Linked DNA regions of Homo sapiens. The protein of the gene in region 1 interacts with the protein of each later gene in a pairwise test. Each region holds a gene or a part of one and is shown in the gene's direction. Other genes may lie near its edges.

Region 1 (3,500 bases):
AAAATAGTTTTTCAAGAATGTCTTTCTTTTTTTTTTTTTTTTTTTTTTTTTCTGAGACAGTGTCTCTCTCTCTCGCCCAGGCTGGAGTGCGATGGCACGATCTCGACTCATTGCAGCCTCCACCTCCCGGGTTCAAGCGATTCTCCTGTCTCAGCCTCCCGAGTAGCTGGGATTACAGGCGCACGTATTTTAGTAGGGACGGGATTTCACTGTGTTGCCCAGGCTGGTCTCGAACTCCTGAGCTCAGGCAGTCTACCCTCAGCCTCCGGAAGTGCTAGGATTACAGGCGTTAGCCACCGTGCCTGGCCTTTTTTTTTTTTCTTTTTTTTTTCAGAGACAGTGTCTCACTCCTTCATCCAGACTGGAGTACAGTGGTGCAATCTCAGCTCACTGCAACCTCTGCCTCTCAGGTTCAAGTAATTCTTGTGCCTCAGCCTCCTGAGTAGCTGTGATTACAGGCATGCACCACTGCACCTGGCGAATATTTGTATTTTAGTAGAGACAGGGGTTTCACTATGTTGGCCAGGCTAGTCTCGAACTCCTGACTTCAAGTGATCTGCCTGCCTCGGCCTCCCAAAGTGCTGGAATTACTACAGGTGTGAGCCCCCACGCCCAGCCAAGAATGTCTTAAAATACTCCCTTTAAGTGTGATTTTGTTGGGAGGGCAGCCCTGTTCCTGCATTTTGGAATTGCTGTACTTACATTTTTGCTTTCTCTAAAGCAGAGTGTGGTTCCCATGTTAAAAAACAAAAGGAAACAAAAAAAGGTAACATGCTTGGAAATGACTTTTGTGGTAGTTACTTTATATGTAAAAATCTAGAAGGTGCCTAATCTTAAACTGAGTAAGGCATTTACTTAGAATTAAAGATAATTTACCCAGCCTGGGCAACATGGCAAGACCTCGTTTCTACAAAAAATAAAAAAACTAGGCCAGGCGCAGTGGCTCACGCCTGTAATCCCGGCACTTTGGGAGGCTGAGGCGGGTGGATCACCTGAGGTCAGGAGTTAGAGACCAGCCTGGCCAATATGGTAAAACCCCATCTCTATTAAAAATACAAAATCAGCTGGGTGTGGTGGCCTGCATCTGTAATCCCAGCTACTTGGGAGGCTGAGGTAGGAGAATTGCTTGAACCTGGGAGGCAGAGGTTGTAGTGAGCCAAGATCGTGCCATTGCACTCCAGCCTGGGCAAAAAAGAGCGAAACTCCATCTCAAAAAAAATAAAAATAAAAAATTAGCTGAGTGTGATGGCATGCACCTGTGGCCCCAGCTACTCAGGAGGCAGAGACGCAAAGGTGGGAGAATTGCTAGAGCCCAGAAGGTGGAAGGTTGAGGCTGCAGTGAAAAGAAAATTTACTACAAAGTTTAAGATTTAAAGTCAGTGGTCTCCCTTTTTCCTGCATCCTCCAATTGAAGTTCAGTTTTTACTTTCTTAGTTGCAAAAATTAGAGACAGGAAACAATGAAACAAGCTTGTGATCTGAAGAATTTGACTTGTATCTAGTAGCTTCAGCATGTTCACGGGTCATAGGAGGTTATGGTCCCAGTGAAAGTTACATTCTTGGCCAGAAAAATCCCTTCAGGAGGTTCTTTTTCCCACATTGGATTGTTCACCCCAAACAGCTGTGAATTCTGGTTTGCAAAAGGAAGTCCAGGCTATTTCTGCCCTAGTCTTTCATAGGGAAAGTAAATTACTGGGTTTTTAGCCCAGAAACACTAAGGAAACCCCAGAAGTAGACAGTGGAGAGTTTGTTCTTAGAAAAATCAGGCTCTCCTGTGGGTAGGAACTTGGTCTCTTTTTTGGAGAGCTCTCAGAAAATATTTCCCACACTGATTTCCAAAGGATTATTGGGAGATTTTCTGTGGTAGAGAAAATTATATCGTATAATATGTTACATTCATAGAACATCTTCACATAACTTTGGTGTGGTTAGAGTTAATGGTAGTAATACTGGAAATTATATGGTATGTCTTCATATTTATCCTTTCTCAGTAATTTGTAGATCAAGTTTGTTTAGTTTACAAATCAAAAAAGAGTTTTTAAAACAAGTCAGTTGTCTCTGCTTTGAAACAAGATAGTTGTATCTGTTTGTGATATTATTACCACTGATCCAGGAAGCAGAACTGCCTCCTGGCCTACTTAAGTGGTGAGGACATACTATGGTGGCTAAGGATCAGGTTCTGACCCAACTCTGCCTTGTGACTTAGGCAAATTAAGTCACTTTTCTGCGCCTCTGTGTCTTCATATATATAATGGGCCTGGGATGGTGCCTATCTTCTAAAGCAGCATTAAATGAGCTAAAGGATGTAAGGCATATAATGCCTGGCACATGGCAAGGGTTTGGTAACCCTCAGCTGCTAGAATCATCTAATGGGAGCCAGGTGCTTGCCACCCTTGATGAATCAGAGTGAGGACCCTGTTAAGGACATATCTTTTATTGATGTTGCCATTTTAACATTTATAATAATTCACAGCAGAAGCTCCCAACCTTTTAAACTATGAAGAGTCCCATAGTTTTAAAAAGCCTGAAAATTGGCAATGGTGGCAAAGTTACAAAGCAATCCAGGTCCACAATCCTTTGTTTGAAACCTTGGGGCCAGATATGTTTTCAGGGTGCTGACTCAATATTGTATATTGAGTCCCTAGTGGGACTGTGGCAGCACCCTGGAAACATTGTATTTCTACAGCAAAACCTGTAAATATTGACTAAATGGGATAAATATGAAGCCGCTTCATATCAGCGTAGGTCAGGTTTTGCAGCTAAATGACTGCTGCTAACTTATGAAAATATATTTTCAGAGCTTTTTGGATTTCTGAATTGTTGATAAGGGACTGTAAACCTCTGCCTTTATGGTAGAAAAATTGCAAGACAAAGAAATGCACTAAGAAGAAAATAAAATCAGTTATAATTTTACCACCTACAGAAATTAACTTGAAATTTTGGTGTACAATCTTGTTTTTTTCTGTGCAAACTTTTTTTTTTAACAGAAATGACATTATTTTGTATATACTTTGTCTCATGTTTTCACGAACTATATTGTGAAAACACTTTCCTATATTTTCTGTCCTCCTCAACCTCATTTTAAATGGATGTGATATCCGTGGTATATATGAATTGTAATTAATTTAACCCCTTTCCTGACATGGAACATGAGTTTGTTTTTCGTTTTTTGCTATTAGAACAGCTCTGTGATGAACATGCATGTGGATAAGTTTGTGTGTACATTCTGCTTATAACATTTGATATATTCAATAGAATGGTAGGTGTAGTTTCAACATTCAGCCATTGCAGAAATCAACAGCTGAATATTCAAATTGCACCTCAAAATCAACAAGAAACATACATGTTGTTGAATTTGAGGACTCATAGTAATTCTGAGGCCCCTTACATCTCCTGGGTCCTTCTGACTGGGAAGTAATATACTGATTTATGGTTGCTAAATACTACTTATATTCAGAAAGTAACCTTTGTGCAAGCCCAGGACTTTTTAATGGTTAACTT
Region 2 (2,172 bases), on another chromosome or scaffold:
GTATTGTAGAAATGTAGAGGAAAAATAAAAATATTTTTTCAAATGTAATTACTTTTAATATATGCTTGTGGAAGGTCTAATACAATGTATGCTGTCTCTGTAATTTTTGCTGTAAATAACTGGAGACGGTGAGTACACTGATTTTTCTATGTCTCTGTTTAAGCATAAGACTTTGTAACAATTTTTTTAGAGGGGGAAAATCAACAAAGAGCAAATATGTACTTGCTTCCTTTCTGCGTGTTATGTACTTCTCAGTTTTTTAATGGAAACTGGTTGTAACAGTTTAAGCATCTTGACGGGTCATTGGTGTTAAGTGTATGCTTCTTTTTGTAATATGACTGAGAAAGGGACAGGGCTGTCAATTAAATCTGCTCCAAAGAATTTGTATTGAAGATTGGCCTAAGACCTGCAAACTCCATCTATAACTAGAAAATACGAAAAAGGAAAATTAAAAAAAAAAGTTGCCTGAGTTAAGTCATCTTTCCTTGTAGCAAATGGCTTTGTCCAAATCCTTTCTGCATGGAATAGCTTAAGGAAAACAAACTCCGCTTTCTGATGAACAAGATATTTTTGTACACATTTATTTCTTGTTAATAACCTGAGGTCAGACCACTCATTTGCTGAAGCCATAACTGACCTTCACCAAATAAATGTTGTAAAGAACCTAGGGGAGGGTTGGGGAGAGACTGAGAGGGAGGAAAATCCAAGGTGTCATGAGCTATAGCAACACAGGCAGGAGCAAGTTGTTGAAACTGATGCTTTTCCTGCATCCCAAATATGACTTTAAAAGGCTAGTATTTTATGATGATCGATTTATAATGATAAAAAGATATTTAGATTTAAATGAGACATTCCAATATTTTTGAAATCCCTAACAATGCTTCCTTGCTTTTAGGATTGAGAGAAATGATTTTCATATACTTCCAACATTCAGAGATTTAATGTTTTTACCTTAGCTCCAGCCTACGCTTGTAAAGTGAAGAGTGATTCTAAGTCCCGTGAAACCGTGGGCTGCCTGGGGCTTGGCTGTGCCCACTAACCTACTGCGCCTGGGGGGCAGCATGGGAGGGGTACAGTTTGCATCTCATTAGCATGCACACCACTGTTGGCAATGCATAAAAGTTGCATTGCCACAAGTATGTAAAATAAAAATATTCACTCTAAAAAGAATAATAATTCTACTTTTTTAAAAGAATAATGTCTCTTATAGTCACCATTGATTTTTCTGGAGTTTAATTACATTATTACCATGTATTCTTATTGGCCTGTAGAGGAAAAAGGCAAACCACAAATAAACCCAGTGACATATATAGTTTTAAAATCTACAATTTTCTGATCTCTCTCTCCTTGTTTAATATATAAGCCCTAATTTCTGTGTATGTGAGTAAAACTGCAGCCTGAGTCATTTAGGAAGTAAGTATTGAGTTTTTTTAATCATAAATATACTAGAATAAAACAGCACTCCCTAACAATTAAAAAAGAGTTTTATATTACTTTAGAATGTAATAGGTTTTTGTCCTTATTTTATGTCCTGTAAATTATTAGTTCAATACTGTTAGCATTCCCGGATAATGCACACATGATTTCTGAATGTTTTCTGTAAATGACAATCAATGTTTATGAAGTTTCCTCCTTTAATGCTGAACAAAATTAAAAGAAGAAAAAGAAAAAAGGACTGCCTAATGGTTTTCTTTCCTCCCCACCCCAACCCCCACTCTCATCCCTGGGAACAGGGAATGGGTAGAAAAGATAAGATTTAGCTTTGAAAACATTACCCCATGGGTTCTTACCTACAGAGTTTTCCTTTTTCTAGTAAGTAATGGTTAATTTTTTTTTTTTTTTCAGGAAATTCTTGTGTCCTCAGGGACCTGGCCTGAGTTAGAAATATTCATTGAGAAAAGACTGAGTCCATTCTAGCCAAATAGCTTACCAAGTTACAATTAAAATGAGAGCAGCATCTCTCAAAGATAATAGCTCTCTTTTTCTCAGCACTTTAATAAAAGGAAGCCCCAGCTAACAGAGCCATAAGCAACTCCCCTGCAACCATTTTGTTGAAATAACGTGCAGCAGGTTTGAAATGGATATGACAATCCCTACATCTGATGAAAGCTTTCAGATAATTAATGATTAAGTCTCTGTGTCTGATTTTTTTTGTTTTGTATCAAGCTGCTC
Region 3 (3,500 bases), about 24 Mb from region 1:
GGTCAGCTATCTCCTCACTTAATAATCTCAGTACAGCTCTGGTGGAGTCATTTCCTGGAGGTCATTTTAGTAAAAGGACCAGAATCTTGTCCTCTGTAACTCTATGACTTCTCTTGTAAAATACAGAATACCCAAAAGATGGGAGAAGAGAAACAGAGACAATTTTAGGATTATGACACCATCCTTAAATGGTTCCATGAACAGGGGAAACTGCTGCCTGATTTTTTCTTTATGTATGTGAACTTTTCATTGTTAGATGAAACCCAGCGCCTCCTGGAATATTAACTACCCAGTGAAACCTTCCCCTGAAATATGCACTCCTCAGTTTCCCTTTAGCTTCCCTGGCCGCTCACCTCTCTGTGTCTCACACTTCCTGGATCTCATAACTGTCAAGAAAAAGGACTTCAACCTTATTCTTGAAGAGTATCACAAAGCTTCCTGAGGACTGTCCTCTATGGCTTTATCTCTTTTAATTGCCCTGGCTAAGAGGAACCTGGCTCACAGCAGCAGAACTGGACCCGTCCCAACTACTGAATAGAGGGCAGATCCCTTCCATTGCACAGCCCTCCAGAGCGGAAAACACACAGGACCCGTGGCAATGGGGCTAGCACAAGGGGACGCGAGTAGTGCAAGTCAGCTGCAAAGAAATGAAAAGCACGAGGCTGAATGATCAAGTCCACGTTGCTAGAGAAGAAAATAGACAGCAAAAGCTCAGACAATGACAGCCGAAAATCCCACGAATATGTCATGGTATAAAATAAAGTCATGAACCTGCCCCATCCAATCCGTAATCCTTTCTTCCATAAATGAGCCCCACCTCAATGACATTAAGTGCATCCAAACATCTTAACAAAGCATTAGAGTTCACTTTTAGTGTTCCGAGGGCTTGTGCTGAATCAACAACGTCCCCGACTTCGCTGTGCTCTGGGAAGGGGGCAGACATGCGGGAATGGCTGCCCGCGTGCTGGGAAACTTTACTAATGCCAAGAAATGAAATCTTCCGAGCCTTTGAAAGGCCTCCAAGAATGTCAGCACGTACTGCCTGCCCACTCTCTGCTGAATGCCTACTTTGGCTGTCTGCTTAGTACTGAATGTGCCAGACAGGCCTTCATACAAAGACGGAGAGTGTGTTGGGCCCATGAAAGGGGAAGGCACAGCTTTTCTGATGTGAATGGTGAGATTCAAGAAGTAGGTGACGAAAGGGGAGGGCGAGGAGGGGCCCTCAGGAAAGGTATGCATAAAAGACCGAGAGAGAAGAGTTGGCATCCACCTATGTGTTAATAAATTTGTTGTCAAAGCTGGAGATGTATATGGCTGCTGGCCTATGCTCCACGCTTGATGGCATGTCTACATGCCTTGCTTGTGGATTCTCTCTGGATCCAAGGCTCCTGTCATCTGAGAACAAGAATTTCTAAGCCCTGCCAAGGCATATATATGTGTACTTCTATTGGCTTTTCAACTCCAAATATAAATGCTATTTGTACTGTGTGTTATTTGGGATTTTTCTTTTACTCTTTTCACCTCCAATATAGAACAATATTGAGAAATGTTCATTGTCGAACATCTGAATATCTCGGGATTTTTTTTTCCTTAAGCTCACTTTGAAAAAGGAAGAAAAATGTTTTGTATAGTGAACCATGCTCTAACTCTGTAACACTGCTACTCATAATTCCTTGGCACGGCATATCCTGCTAGAGGAAAGAACTCTTCTGGTGTTTTGAGCTTTTCCAAGGAGGCAGTCTGATGTCACTGGTGGCAGATGCAGTGTATATGTATCTGTCTTTTGTCTGCACCATCTGTTTTTCTCCTTACAGTCTATTGTTCAGATTTATGCTTCTCTCTTTCCAGGAAGTGTGCCTTTCCATAAGAGCACGGGCCTTAGGTGATAAAGGGACCGACCCAATATTCTAACACGGTTTCCTTCTCTTCCTTCCCTCCTAGAATCTTATGGCAAGGGCCTTATATGACAATGTCCCAGAGTGTGCCGAGGAACTGGCCTTTCGCAAGGGAGACATCCTGACCGTCATAGAGCAGAACACAGGGGGACTGGAAGGATGGTGGCTGTGCTCATTACACGGTCGGCAAGGCATTGTCCCAGGCAACCGGGTGAAGCTTCTGATTGGTCCCATGCAGGAGACTGCCTCCAGTCACGAGCAGCCTGCCTCTGGACTGATGCAGCAGACCTTTGGCCAACAGAAGCTCTATCAAGTGCCAAACCCACAGGCTGCTCCCCGAGACACCATCTACCAAGTGCCACCTTCCTACCAAAATCAGGGAATTTACCAAGTCCCCACTGGCCACGGCACCCAAGAACAAGAGGTATATCAGGTGCCACCATCAGTGCAGAGAAGCATTGGGGGAACCAGTGGGCCCCACGTGGGTAAAAAGGTGAGTAAATGACTAACTAAATTTTTGTTCCTACTTATTTTTTTTTCCCATTACACTTGGAGCATTTGGAAATGTTCCCAAATTAATAACTTGAAGCTGCCAAGAAGTAGATATAACCAATACCTTAGCTCAGGCATCATGTTTGCATGATTTTGCCATTCATCCATCATTCAGCAAAACTTCTTTGAACTACCATGTGCTGAGTACAGTTGATTTCCAGCCCTCCTAAGTTCCTGTGTCATCCTGGGTTACATGGGTTATTAAACTGTTTCTCTCCATCTTTCTCATATATCAGCTTCTAAGCCTTCACTCTGTGCTCAGATCGTTTCCTATCTTTTCTGTTTCTTCATTGAGTGGAACAAACACCAAATCTCGTACAAGCCTGATGATGCAACAAGGATCCTCCCTTGGCCAAAAGCTGAATCATGACCTCAGTGGCCTGGCTGGACAAGGAACCCACCCAAAGTAGCGAGAGTGAGGAAGCTGGGAGTATGTCATGCTGACCAACTCGTTCTATAGAGTTATCAGCTTAGTTTGACTCATTTAAAAATGCACAGATACTAGTGGAATTGGAATGAAGCCATCCTCCTGTCCTTCAAGTCATTCTTATAATAATGCCTGAGGCAGTGGGTGAAAACAGTGGAGCTTGGATATTTAGGAAGGAATTAATTTAAAAATACAGTGTGGGGAGCTCTGCAACACCCTGTGTAATCCCAAATACTTTAGCAATTTGAGGTCAATAGAAATTCACTAATTGAACAATGAATGTTGAGCATCTAATATATTTTTGATGCTTGTGATACAGTGATTAATTAAAGATAAACAAAGCCCTGGTGATGCTTACATTGCCGTGGGGGAGACAGAAGCAACCAAGAGAATGCTAGGTAGGGACACGTGTTATCAGGAAAATAATGTCAGTGGACTGATCGGGGGTAACACCCACAACCAAGGTGATGCTTATGTGAGCATCACAAAGGAGGGATTTTCTCTTTCATTTGCTGGCAAATTCCAATGGGTCCTACAAGGTTTGGTATTAGGAATGAACAAATTTAACTGGATAAGAAGATATCCCTGAATTACAAGAGGAAAGATGCAATTACATACCAGAAAGA
Region 4 (2,299 bases), on another chromosome or scaffold:
AGCTGCGGTGGCCCAGTCTGAGCAGCAGGGTGAGGCGGCCCTCAGTGATGCCCGCTGCAAGCTGGCCGAGCTGGAGGGCGCCCTGCAGAAGGCCAAGCAAGACATGGCCTGCCTGATCAGGGAGTACCAGGAGGTGATGAACTCCAAGCTAGGCCTGGATATCGAGATCGCCACCTACAGGCGCCTGCTGGAGGGCGAGGAGCAGAGGTGGGTCCAACCCAGCCCTAAGCACTCCACTTGCATAGACCTGCCCACCTTTGATTTTTCCCTATCTCAGTCTCAGTCCCCAGGTGACATTCTTGCCTCTATGGATCCCAGATCCATATCTTCAAGTTGTCTCATTCTCAACTCTTCCAAGATCCATACCCTGCCTGGTTTCTTGGACATCACCTATTCTAGGGCAGGGTTGCTGGCCAAACTCCACCCCTGACCTCGTCTTCCCAAGAGGGCCTTCTCCTTCTGAAAGTTGAGCCTATCTAGACCTGACAGATATGGTTGTTCAGGTTGTTCACTGCACAAAGGCAAATAACAGCTGAGAGACAAATAAGAATTGAAATCCAACCATACTCTACTTGCTAAATAGTGTGACCTGACGTTGCTTCAACTGCCAGAAAGGCAACTTTTTCTAAGCTGCACAAGGGAATAAATGTAGGTCAGAAATAGCCCTGAGATGACCCATTTCAGCACCTAGCGGAAATTCGATGACCTCATTCTGACTTCTTTTATCTTCCCCTTCCTTACTTTTTCCCCACTCAGGCTGTGTGAAGGTGTTGAAGCTGTGAATGTCTGTAAGTATCTTGAGCCCTGAAAAGGAAAATGTAGACTGGGGACAAAGGACTTCTTGACTATGAATATATGCAGAGACTTTGGGAGGAGTGTTTCCAATAATTCCCCCAGTAAAGAGGATAGGTTGGTCATGCAGCAAGACAGACTGAGGTTAGCTCGCAGGAAGAACCTCACAGCCTGAATGTGTTGGGGAGGGGAAAAAATAATAAGATGTCATTGCAAGAAGGGACCTCAGATGTCATTCATAACCTTCACCTTATATAGGTGAGAAAGCTGAGGCCCAGACAGAGGAAAGGACTCCCAAAGTCACAAAGCAGAACCAGGACCAGAACCCCGGTCTGCTGGCTCCCAGGCTAGGGTTCCCTCCTTCAGAATAGAACTGGAGGCTCTTTGCATCCTTCCCTGGATGGTCGACACATCAGACAGACCAAAGGAAGGTGGCTGGATGGGATGGCCATCAGCAGGGGTCTCTTGACCCTGCCCTTGTTCCCACAGGTGTCAGCAGCTCCCGGGGTGGGGTTGTGTGCGGGGATCTCTGCGTGTCGGGCTCCCGGCCGGTGACGGGCAGCGTCTGCAGTGCCCCCTGCAACGGGAACCTGGTGGTGAGCACTGGTTTGTGCAAGCCCTGTGGCCAGCTGAACACCACCTGTGGAGGGGGCTCCTGCGGCCAGGGGAGGCATTAAGTGGCCCAAAAGAGAGCCAGGGGAGCCCCTTCTGCCTGCCAGACGTGCCACTGCCCCACCACCAGCTGAAAACAGCAGCACATCGCTGGCTTTTCCCCTTGTGTTCTGAGAATACACCATCGGCTCATTCCCACCAGCGGCTCCTCCCCACCTTTCATCCCACTGGAAAGGGGCCTGTGGCTGGGGAATAGACCCATTCCTTCCCCTGTCTCAGCCTTCAGCCCCTCCCGGGGAGAAGGGCCTTGCTTCCCTGGAAGAAGCACTGTGAGACTGTTCCCCCTGCCTCTCTGGCCTCTTGTCTCCCCTTTTCCAATAAACTTGGGGACCTGCTTTGTGTGCTGCAATGTCTTGCTTTCTTGGGGTTCCCCACACCCACCAAGTGGTGAGCACCCCAGCCTGATGATATGGCCTGAAGACTAGAGTCGTTCTGGCCTGTTCTCCGCCTGGACACCCGTAGGGCCTTGTCCCCAGATGGTTCTGTCATCTCCTGGCCAGGCAGTGCTGACTGTGCTCACAGCACCTTCTACCTGTCACACCTGTCAGTCTGGATGGCTCTGAAGGGGACCGAGGAGGCCAGAAGTCAGCCGGAAGGCAGTGCATGTGCATGCGCATGTTTATATGTGTGCACGTGTATGCGTGCTTGTGTGTGTGTTTGAGTTTTGCCCCCTTCTTGCATACACGGTCCCCACTTTCTCTTCCTAGCATATCTTCACTCTGCCCCCCAGCCATCCTTCCACGTAGGTACCACAGCAACAACCACCAAAAGTGCCAGCAGCCACCCTTGGGGGCTGCCCTGTGTCAGTCTGGACCCCACCCCATTGCCACATCCT
Region 5 (3,500 bases), on another chromosome or scaffold:
TAATTTTTCAATAATGAAATTTTATAAACAAAAACTTTTACTCTACAGGCAGCATAAAATAATGGTATCTGATTCATAGTAAAGCTGTTTGTCACATCTGAACAATTACGACCTCTCACTCTTTGCTCCTTTGCTTGGCTCAGTAGTTTAGAATGTATCTAGGATGTCTTTTTTTTTTGTTTGAGACAGAGTCTCGCCCTGTTGCCCAGGCTGGAATGCAGTGGTGCGATCTCGGCTCACTGCAACCTCTGCCTCCCGGGTTCAAGCGATTCTCCTGCCCCAGCCTCCCAAGTAGCTGGGATTACAGGCGCGCGCCACTACGCCCAGCTAATTTTTGTACTTTTGGTAGAGACAGATTTCACTGTGTTGGTCAGGCTGGTCTCGAACTCTTGACCTCGTGATCCACCCACCTCGGCCTCCCAAAGTGCTGGGATTACAGGCGTGAGCCACCTTGCCCGGCCGTATCTAGGATGTCTTTGGATTAAAGTTCCATGTTCTTATCCAAGGTGTCATCTAGGGGTTCTTAAACATAAAGTAACACTAAGTTGCAGTATAATGACATATTAAATTAAAAATAAGAAAGGTAAACCAGGGGATCCTCAGCCACCTCTAAAACACATTCCATATGAGAATAAAATATTTGTCCTTCACAGTTGCTGTAATTGTATGCTTTCTCTATATAATGAGGAGGCATGTGCTTCATTCTGACTATGCTTCATTTTTATTTGGAGTTGCAAAGTCTTAAATGTGAGTAACGTATGAATTATTATAATAATCTTTGGAATCTGAATTCTTTCTTCCGTTTGGACAAATTCTCTTTTTTTGTGACCACCTGTTCACTCGTCATGTAAGTATATAGTAGGTACCTACAACTTGCTTGCTGGTTGATGGGCTAATTTGATTCAAGTTCTAGATGAGCGCTTGGATAAGAGGGTGGATGACATGCTTGCTGCTGGGCTCTTGGAGGAACTAAGAGATTTTCACAGACGCTATAATCAGAAGAATGTTTCGGAAAATAGGTGAGGATTTGGCTGTTATTCTGACCTACTGTCCATATTTTGCAGACAATCAAAAGACCATAACGCTAATACTGGCTTTGGGTCTACTTGTTTATCAGCCTTCTTTGCAGATGCAGTTTTTTAATCTTTCAGACAGTCCCAGGAGTTAACTTTTCAAGAAAGTAACCTGGTGGGTAGGGGAGGGGAAAATTTCAGAGAATCAGTAACTGCTCAGGATCTCAATTTCCTTATCTGACAGATGAAATGGCTCAACTAGGTCCATCTCCAAAGCCCCTGCTAGCTTTTAGGAGCAATGGCTTATCTGCTGATACCCTCCTGTTCCCAGCCAGGACTATCAACATGGTATCTTCCAATCAATTGGCTTCAAGGAATTTCACGAGTACCTGATCACTGAGGGAAAATGCACACTGGAGACTAGTAACCAGCTTCTAAAGAAAGGTGTGAATTCTTCCATCTAATCTAGTCTTGGACATCTTTGGGTGGCAGGGTACTCTGCTGGTATGGTCTGAGAAAGAGCCAAGGCTTAAAGCGTCCCAAATAGCCTTCAGCTCAGAACTGAGATTTTTGTCCACCAAGTCTGACATTGCACTGCCGTGGCTGACTTTTTCCTGCTGGGCTGGGAGGGCCTGCCTCTCTGCAGGGTAAGGAGTGCTTACCTAGATGTTCTTAAATCTACTGTATCTTTCAGGTATTGAGGCTCTGAAACAAGTAACTAAGAGATATGCCCGGAAACAAAACCGATGGGTTAAAAACCGTTTTTTGAGCAGTAAGTCTCATGTTTTTCTTTATCCTATGGGTCTGTTTTCAATAGAATATAGATGTCCTCAGCTCACCCAGAAAATGAATTTTAGATTCTGGGCCTGTTCTAAGATTTTGGATCTGACCTAAGGGAAGTTCTATAACATAAATGATTATCCAGGGATATTTTCTTGGGATGTCACAAAAAAAAAAAAAATTATTTGCATTGAGGAGTCTGCCTTCTGCCTTGAACAGATGGATACTGGCTGCAAACAGCTAAGAAGAACAGCAGCATCTTTTTTGGAGAGTTGGTGTTCAGGGCTGATTTTTAGCTTCAGTTTTGTACCTGAAGAGCAGTCAGATTTCTGTAGGGAAGATTTCCTAATTACAGTGTTTTTGGGGGGCCAGATGAGTTGTATAAAAAGACACCTTCACCATTTCTCCCAGCGTCTCCACATGGTGCTTCAGATTGCTTCAAATGAAACTTTAGTTGAACAGCATTTTTGAGGGAAAAGAAAGGAAATTCTCATTGATTTGGCCCTGTACTGTGTCTTTGGCACTAAATTTGGTGTTATACATATATTATTGAGTCTTCAAGGTAGGTGTTATTCTTTTATTTTTACAGATAAGAAAATGAAGGCCTAGTGAAGTTAAATAACTTGCCAAAAATCACCCAGCTAGTCGGCAGTAGATAACTGAATGCAGGCCTGACACAGAGTCCACACTCCTTTATACTACTCTTACTTCCTTTAGCTGTAACTTTAGCAAGACAGCATTAGTATTGGACCATGGGTAAAAACTATGTGGTTATGAGCTAAAGGAGATTAATTTAAGCATAAGTGAAACTTCAGTTTTATCTTGTGGACATGTTTTAAATATGCTTCTGAATCATCTTGTGTTTACCTTTTGCTGGTAGACTTCTGCTCTCAATTACAGACAGGGCCAGCTGAAGCCTCTGCCCCACTCGGTGCCTCTGAAAATACATACCTTGATCCCTGCTGTTGACCACTAAACTGCTAACATTCTTTCTCCCAGCTCCCACTCTCTGCCTGAGCTCTCCAGTGGAGTTCTGGTGTGAAGAGGCTTGTTGTGCTTTCCTCTACTTATCCTGTTTTCTCTGCATGTCCTGGTAGATAGAAGTCTTAGTGTCATCTGAAGTTGAAGCTCAGTGCTGTATTACAAATTTCTAATGCAGCTTCTCTTATCCCCATGTCTGACAATAAGCCTTTAACAGAAGACTTTTGGGTAATAATTTAGAACTTCTTCCTGTAGTAAAACCACAATAATTCCTCCATCTCTGTGGTAGGAGGAGTTGATGGCACAGTGTGTCATATGCCTGTTCCTCATTCGTGTGTATGCCGGCATCGTCCTGGTGCTGGAGTGAAAGGCACAGCTGCCCTGTAAATCAGGAGCTGTGCGTGATTGGCCAGGGCTGGTCTGCTGGGATATGGTTCTGGCAGGAAGCCAGGGGGACTTCCCCACCCCAGCATGGCCTTGGACCCAAGCCAGAAATAGCAGCTGGGAGCCGAGAACTTGTTGAAAGGTGCTTAGACAGGGCACAGAAGCCCAACAAAGGGCTTAGAGGAGAAAGGAAAATGTAGAGTGGCCTGGAAACAGGTGCAGAGCTTAGCCAAGGCCAGGTGTGCTGTGGATGCTGCCTGCACCCTCCTAGTCTCACCTTTCCTGTGGTAGCAGGTGCAGCCCAGTCCAGTTTATGAAGAATCTTATTTGGGGTTGGCACAA
Region 6 (3,500 bases), on another chromosome or scaffold:
AGGCGTCGGGCAGGTACTGGGGAGTGAAGATGTGATGTAGCTCTCACTCCCCACGCGCCTACACATGACTGTTGGCCTCTCCACACACCAAAAGCCCGGAAGCGTTTTATATTTCACCTTTCCTAGAACGAGAAATGAAATTCCAGAAAAGAAAACCATGGCCTGCTTTGCCGCCTTTACCTTAAAATAGATATATTGTAAAGATCTATTGCACTTTAAAGACATTGAAACAACACAGAAGGATAGGAAATGAAGAGTGAAAGTCTGCTCTTAACTGCACTTGGCCTGGCCTTCTGATGCCAGGAGGCGAACAAGTCTGTAACCTAATGACAGCACCTTCCTTTACTCAGAGACGCTTAGACAGGAGCATTGACAGATTTACTCAAGATAGAAGAGTATTTATGAATAACAATTATGAACTTGTACAAAAACTCTTCCCCTGATTTTAAGAGAAAGTATGAACATTTACTTGCTTCCTTGTTAGGAACCTAAGTAGTTGTATTATGTATTGCTTGGCTTGGAATGCTCTGTGTGTGTATATATAATATAATGACATATATTATATACATTTATACATAGTTTGGTCCTCTCATATAGCCTGCTTCTCTTTCAAACCTTTTCATGTAGGTGTTTATACTCTGCTAGAATGTTTGTCTTCTTAAGCATATTTGTCAATCCCAAGAAATGTTACTTGTTTTTAATATCCTCAAGCTACCCTGAGACTCAGACATAAGTTAGAACCCAAATGTTTCAGCTGGGGGATTTTGTGTATTAAAAAATAACATTGGAATATAACATGTATCTTGATGGCAGTTGGTCAACTTTTCTGGCAGAATATTTTGATATAGCATGAAGTGGTTCACAAATTAAGAAGACCCCTGTTGGGTGGACTAATTAAAGTTGATTGACTTTGTCTAGCCTGCTGTGGACCTAACACACAGATAGTCTTCTAGATATTGGGAGAGCCTCAGTTTTTCACTTTTAATAGTAGCATAATGCTACTATTAAGTTTTTCAACTCTTTATGGAGACAAATGAAACAATAAGTTGAAGACGGCTTTAGAGGACTTCTTGGAGAAAGGCCTTAGCCACAGTTTTATTATCATGCATTACAAATATTAGAAGTGTGCTTTTTGTCTATGGAGGTAGTGGCTGGAGTTGGTACCTATGCTGATGTCGTTGATGGGATGACACGTGTGGAGAAGCATGTTGGAAGTTGACTGTCTCTGGCACAGGCTGCTAGGGAATGAAAACTAAACACTCTTCTGACCATTTGCATCATTGAGTCAAGCAGAAAAAAAAATCAGTTAAGTAACTCCCTGGAGTGACTTATTTCTATTTCCATGGGCATATTGCCTTTGCTTATTGTCATTTGCTTTTAGCTATTTTTGCAAAGGTGCTGAAAGGCTGTCTCTGAAGTCAGACAGTAACATTCAAAATTATAGACATTATCTATGTATTTTCCTATCCAATCTCTTACTTTAATGTCCGAAAACACAAGAGTGTGGGAAAGAGAGAAACCTCTATAACTCAATCATGCTACAGCAATTTTCATGGCCCCCAAAGTTACTTCAGTGAAATATTTCAATTCAATTGAGTCATGAGTTTGAATGTTAAATTTCCCCAGCTTTCATTAGTCTTTTAAAAATCTCTGGGTTTAGAGGCCTTGCAGTCAGGCAGCCTTGACTGTGAATCCTTTCTCTGCCACTTTCTAGCTTCTGGTTCTTGGTGGAGTAGTAGTGCTTGGGAATTGCTTTATCTGCAGAATGGGAATCATGATACTTAGATAATATGCTGGTTTTTGGTTCTAGACAGGTGTCTGACACATGGTATGCACTGTAATTGTGTTTATTGTCTTTCATGTAATTCCCAAAATGTCTTGAAGTTTTTATTTTCACAATCAATAAGCTTGAGAGGGTGTGTGAAGTGTGTGTGTTTCAGAGGAGTTGACATATGGATAAGTGTGAGAATACTCCCATCCAGGCCCTGGGGTCAAAAGCAGAGTCTGGGAGAATTTTAACAATAGTTTGTGTTGCTGGCAGAGGAAGGACAGAAGAGGGCCTTTGTGCAAGGGAGGCCCAGCGGCATGGACACTTCTCTGCTTTCCGAAACAAGTTGTTGCTTTTCACTTCAGAGGTCTGGGGACATTTCTGAGAAGCTTGCAGCCCTCATTCTTCCAGCTCTCTTGGGAGGAGTAGAGGAGTAGCTGCTGACTGAGGCAAAGGTTTGGCTGGCTAGAGCCCCCTCCAGTGAGACAGGAGGCTTACATAGTCAGCCCTCCTTTGCTGTGAAGCAAATGGCAAATCGAGGGCTCCCTTACCATGCTGGGTTGCGATTAGCTGTTCCTGACACAAACGTTTCATACAGACTCACAAGTTTCTTGGGCATTTCGGTCATTTCAGCGCAGATAGGGCACATCCAGGGTGATCCAACAGGCCTGGCTGCGGCCAAGGCTGGCGGCGGCAGGTACCCGGGTGCCCCGAGGGCCACCCGCCGCCCCGCTCTGGCGCATCCATCAGTGGCCAGCTTTCACCGTGTCTGCCAGGCGGGACTCGCCAGGTGTCAGGCTCAGTGCCATAAGCCTGACACTTGCGCGGGGTCGCCGTGGCTCCTCAGGGAAGCTGGGCCAAGGAGGCTGGGTCGCGCCGGCGGGCGCCGAGGCCACCTTCTCGGGGCAGGCCATCCGCGCTGAGGCGCAGACACGGCGGCTCCTCCAGGCCCATTAATAACCCGGAGGGCGCTGCGATCCGACAGCGCAGTCGCCACAGGCTCTATTTCCCGTGGCCGCCTGCCTCCTTCCAGCCCAGTTCGAGTGGAGGGATACTGGGCGCCCACTACCGCCCGGCCCGGAGGGTGGGGGTCCCTCTCGCGCAGGCTGCTTTGGAGAGTGTCGGAGAGAGACAGCTTTATCTACAGCTTCACCCATTGTATAGCACAACAGAATCGCATTTAGCCTGGAGAACAGCCGTCGGGGCAGGAGTTGGTGCCTTCTCTAACAATTAGGCTGATCGTTAAATTTGCTATTCCTTTCTTCCGGCGTCTAGGGAGAGCGTGCACACCAAACCCTCCAGAACAGCACCCCGGTCCCCCACCCCGCCCCACCTGTCCCCGCCCTGCTTCAGTGCCTGGAGGGAGAACTGACTGGTCGCTTGAGGGACCCCATTTCGGGCGCGCCCTTGGAGTCCTGGGGCTGCGGCTCCTGCTCTACCGGGCTGCAGGCTTGCTCTGCCCCGTCCCGTGGCGTTTGGGAGGCAGTCGAGGAAGCCTCCGAGTCTCTGGGTCGAAGGAAGTGCGAATGGCACCCGCGATAGACTGGCCGTCTCCCCCACCCCGCCCCGTCTGGTGATTTTAAATCGTCTCCTGTGTAATTGTAAAAAGAGGAAAGCTGAATACCCAGACGACCAGTATAGAATCTCTTCGAGACAGCAGATTGGGCAAGAGACGGGCTTTTTTTCGCAATACAAGGATAAACACATCCTGAAACTCCAGATAGAAACCTCA
Region 7 (3,500 bases), on another chromosome or scaffold:
TTCCTGTGTTCACTTATCCATTTGGAGTCTTCCAGCCTCCATAGATGCTCTTGCAGTGCAATTCCTTTTTGTACCTCATACAGGCAACAAAGGAAATTGGTTTATGCCACCCAGTGGCCTTTGGAGAAAACAAACTGGAGGTCAGAGTGACCCCTGGGCGGCCTCGTCAGTAGTTATGCGTTTGGGATGTGTGCAGCTGTGAGATATCCTGACCCAGAGTGTGGTTGGCACAGGGGTCTTTAGCAATTGTGTAGCTCCATGACTGTCCTTGTTCTTTGCTCTTACTGGGTGGGCCTGGACTTAAGTTATGAGTTCCAGTTCTAGGCGGAAGATGTGTTTCTCTAGTAGACTCACTAATGCCTAGCTGTTTCTCTGGGGCTATGCCTCCCAACTCCCCCGCCCCCCACCCTCGGGAGAGGGCTGTGTTTGTAAGGTCTCAGGGCAGTGACGTTCCTGTGATGGCCAGAGGGACCTTTCCCTTTTCTCTGGGCCTGGGGAATCCTGGAAATAGGTTTTGCTGGTGACCACCAGCCAGTCCTGCTGTGTCTTTCCAGTCAGGTGCGCTCCAGTTAGATGGGCAGTGGTTGCCTCCTCAGGGGCAGGGTTGGGAGGGGTGCTGAGGCAGGTGGTTTCCAGGAGCGACCCCACGTGGCAGCGGCAGCAGCAGCGGGACTGCTTTCCTGGCTGTCCCAGGCTCTTTGTCAACATCCACATGTAGATGTGGGGGAGCAGGTGTGGCCCAAATTAATCCTTAAAAGCCTCTGGCGATTAAACTTTAAAGGTCTCAGATAGACACAGAATAATCCCTGGAAAACAATTTGGCATTATCTTGGAAAGCTGATCACATATAGACCCCACAGCCCAGCGATGTGGTTGCCAGATAGATTCCTAGCACAGGGGAATCTGAGAAAAAAATATCGAGTGAAAAAATAAGTTCCAGATGACTATGCGCTTCTGACTTATGTGCTTCTGGTTAAGCTCACACATATGCAAAATAAATAGGATATTATTAGGGATATGTGCTTGTGTGACAAAACTGAATTTTACCCATAGCCATGGTAAGATAATGAGAAACACAACATTCAAGCTACTGGTTGCCTCGGGGTGGGAGATAGGACAGAGCCCAGGACGCAGCCTCCCTGTGGGTCCTGTGGCAGTTCTGAAGTTGAGTGTGGGTTCCTGGCACTCACCGTGTGATGATGACAATTCAGTGATTTCAGTACTTGTCACATACACTGTCTACATTATGCTGAAAACTGAGTTGGTGGAAGGGACCTGCCTCTCTTTGGTGCTACTTGGGGTCCCTGCCTCACACCCGTCTTGTTCCCTGTTGTGGTCTAAAGGCTGTGAGGACACCGTGGCTGAAGCAGGGTGAGGTTCCTGGACTGAGACCTGCAGGCATAGGGAGGGTGCGTGGGAAATGACAGACACTGAGACTGCCATGTTCTCCACCCATAAGAATGGAAAAGCAGAGCCCTGTTGTCCGCGTAGACACTGCTTGGGGGAGGAGTGGTGTGATAAACTAGGAGAGGAGCCCCAGATGGGTATTTTGGGGTTCGATGCTACTGAGAGAGGTCAGATCTTCAGAGAGGGAGGGAGAGCCTGCCAGCCTTATCTGCAACTGCGGAGCCACTTTTCCTGTGCTTGGGGATGCCTTGCTGTTGGTCTCCAGACCCTTGTAGCCCACCTCGCCCACTGCTCAGCTGGGTCCACTTCCAAGGCTCTTGGATGTTACAGGATCCCCCTTGGTCGCCTCTGTAAAGCAGTGACATCTCTCTCCCTACTGGCTTCTGCCTTCCAGGGAGGGGAGGGCTGGGGAGGTGGTGAATGGGGTTGTGGAGGCGTCTCTCTGGTTTGTTGGTTGGGGAGATGCAGGATTCCCGGCCTGGCCTTGGTTTCCCCAATCAAGCCTCCTTTCACCTCCAGCGTTGTAGAAAATCACCTTTTTCCTCCTCTGTTCATCCTGTCTTTTATTAATACCGAGTCTGTGCTTGCGCAAGTGTGTGGTGTGTATAGGGTAGGAGGAGAAATAGTGAGCATGTGCAGGTGAGACTATATTTGAGACTCTCTTACTGCCTCCTCATAGCAGGTCCTGCAAGCTAAGTGCTAGTAACCCCGTATTGCAGGTAACAGCCGAGCAAGGCCCAGGGGTTAATTTCCCAGATGCATCTAGGTAGCCAGGAGTCTCCTCTAGGGCTCTGACTTCAGCCCTGGGCCCCTTGCCACTCAGGCCCCCACATTGTTACAACCCTGAGGGCCTGTTTTGCATAGAATCCAAAGCTTTTCCCTGATGGTGGCTGCACACTAGTAGCACTGCCAGCTGGGGTGTTTGGATGAAGTGAGAAGTCTCTAAAAATCCTGGTATGAAGAACAATGTCAGAGTCAAGGTCAGTGAAGGCATGAAGGAAGTAACTTGCTGCCAGATCGCTTTGAGAGCACATCTCTGAATTTGCTTACTCAGTCATTACACAGATAATCATGTGTCTGACACGGTGCTAGGTGCTGGGTCTCATGTTATATGTGTTACATGCTCTCATAGTCTGGACTAGAAGAGAATGTCTCAGTGTGTCTCTCCTATATATACACGTATGCCTGCACACACGCACACAGAACATGTAGGGTGCATAACTGGGAGCCCCGACCTGGTCTGGAGCCAGGAGAGGAGTCCTGGAAGTGGGGGGATGCTGAAGCTGCTCTTTGAAGCATGAGTAGGTGCTGTCCAGGCATAAAGGCAGGGAATAGCATTCAGGCCCAAGGGAACAGCTCCAGGGAGGCGTTGAAGCCAGAAGCTTACTGAATGTAAGGAAAGTGCAGGCGGTTAGTCTGCAGACAGCCGGAATGTGTTCCTATTCATCCAGGGGAGGGAAGAACAAACAGTTACCTTGTTGCAAAGGACAATTAGAATTGGATTGTCCCTGTCTTCCAAACTGTGGGCAGCTATACCTTAGAGGACCATGAACTCAATTCGCTGAGTTGCAATTAGCATTCAAAGAATAATACTTTTCTACACAAATCTATGGGGAAAAAAAGAGTAGAATACAGAAAGGAAGGCATTGCATGCGCGCAGTGAGGGTAAGAGTATTGCTTCATGAAACTTGTGTGTGTTACGGATGTGTATGCCTGTACTTGGTTTTTGATATGAAATTATTCTCCTGGGTTGTGATCAGAAGCCACCTTTCGAGTTGGTCCGCTGGAGTAGCTCATGCCTCCCCTTTCCTTTATGCCACGGCTGCCACGCCTGCACCTGACCATGGTTGGGGGTTTGAGCTGGGGCCTGCTCACAGCTGGGGGTTATGAAATGCTTCTGTATTGCATTTCCGAACACTGGTGAGGAGTGCTTGGACCTGTGCCCTTTGCTGTCCAGGCTGCAATTTTCTCGTTGAGTATCACGTGAATATTTATGAACAGTCCATTGTGCCAGGCACCATGCCCAGATGTATAAGGCTCAGGCTGCCTTCAGGAGTTTCCCATACAGTGTGGGAGTCAGACGAGACTCTGAG

The links.
Region 2: the proteins of ANKS1A (region 1) and RORB interact in a two-hybrid assay, tested with the Homo sapiens proteins (one large-scale study listed by BioGRID).
Region 3: the proteins of ANKS1A (region 1) and NEDD9 interact in a two-hybrid assay, tested with the Homo sapiens proteins (one large-scale study listed by BioGRID).
Region 4: the proteins of ANKS1A (region 1) and KRT83 interact in a two-hybrid assay, tested with the Homo sapiens proteins (one large-scale study listed by BioGRID).
Region 5: the proteins of ANKS1A (region 1) and TRIT1 interact in a two-hybrid assay, tested with the Homo sapiens proteins (one large-scale study listed by BioGRID and IntAct).
Region 6: the proteins of ANKS1A (region 1) and PRDM6 interact in a two-hybrid assay, tested with the Homo sapiens proteins (one large-scale study listed by BioGRID).
Region 7: the proteins of ANKS1A (region 1) and ARHGAP10 interact in a two-hybrid assay, tested with the Homo sapiens proteins (one large-scale study listed by BioGRID and IntAct).

Annotation. Positions count from the first base shown.
Region 1 is NC_000006.12:34,895,755-34,899,254, forward strand, and holds part of ANKS1A (ankyrin repeat and SAM domain-containing protein 1A), read left to right. Parts: intron 1-3,500. UniProt on the Homo sapiens protein: Regulator of different signaling pathways. Regulates EPHA8 receptor tyrosine kinase signaling to control cell migration and neurite retraction.
Region 2 is NC_000009.12:74,691,506-74,693,677, forward strand, and holds the end of RORB (nuclear receptor ROR-beta), read left to right. Parts: 3' UTR 1-1,672; downstream 1,673-2,172. UniProt on the Homo sapiens protein: Nuclear receptor that binds DNA as a monomer to ROR response elements (RORE) containing a single core motif half-site 5'-AGGTCA-3' preceded by a short A-T-rich sequence.
Region 3 is NC_000006.12:11,212,169-11,215,668, reverse strand, and holds part of NEDD9 (enhancer of filamentation 1), read left to right. Parts: intron 1-1,941; coding exon 1,942-2,388; intron 2,389-3,500. UniProt on the Homo sapiens protein: Scaffolding protein which plays a central coordinating role for tyrosine-kinase-based signaling related to cell adhesion. As a focal adhesion protein, plays a role in embryonic fibroblast migration.
Region 4 is NC_000012.12:52,313,801-52,316,099, reverse strand, and holds the end of KRT83 (keratin, type II cuticular Hb3), read left to right. Parts: coding exon 1-207; intron 208-756; coding exon 757-788; intron 789-1,281; coding exon 1,282-1,469; 3' UTR 1,470-1,799; downstream 1,800-2,299.
Region 5 is NC_000001.11:39,845,505-39,849,004, reverse strand, and holds part of TRIT1 (tRNA dimethylallyltransferase isoform 1 precursor), read left to right. Parts: intron 1-907; coding exon 908-1,019; intron 1,020-1,257; exon of another isoform or gene 1,258-1,344; coding exon 1,345-1,457; intron 1,458-1,707; coding exon 1,708-1,785; intron 1,786-3,500. UniProt on the Homo sapiens protein: Catalyzes the transfer of a dimethylallyl group onto the adenine at position 37 of both cytosolic and mitochondrial tRNAs, leading to the formation of N6-(dimethylallyl)adenosine (i6A37).
Region 6 is NC_000005.10:123,095,741-123,099,240, forward strand, and holds part of PRDM6 (putative histone-lysine N-methyltransferase PRDM6), read left to right. Parts: intron 1-3,486; exon of another isoform or gene 3,487-3,500. UniProt on the Homo sapiens protein: Putative histone methyltransferase that acts as a transcriptional repressor of smooth muscle gene expression.
Region 7 is NC_000004.12:148,067,588-148,071,087, forward strand, and holds part of ARHGAP10 (rho GTPase-activating protein 10), read left to right. Parts: intron 1-3,500. UniProt on the Homo sapiens protein: GTPase-activating protein that catalyzes the conversion of active GTP-bound Rho GTPases to their inactive GDP-bound form, thus suppressing various Rho GTPase-mediated cellular processes. Also converts Cdc42 to an inactive GDP-bound state.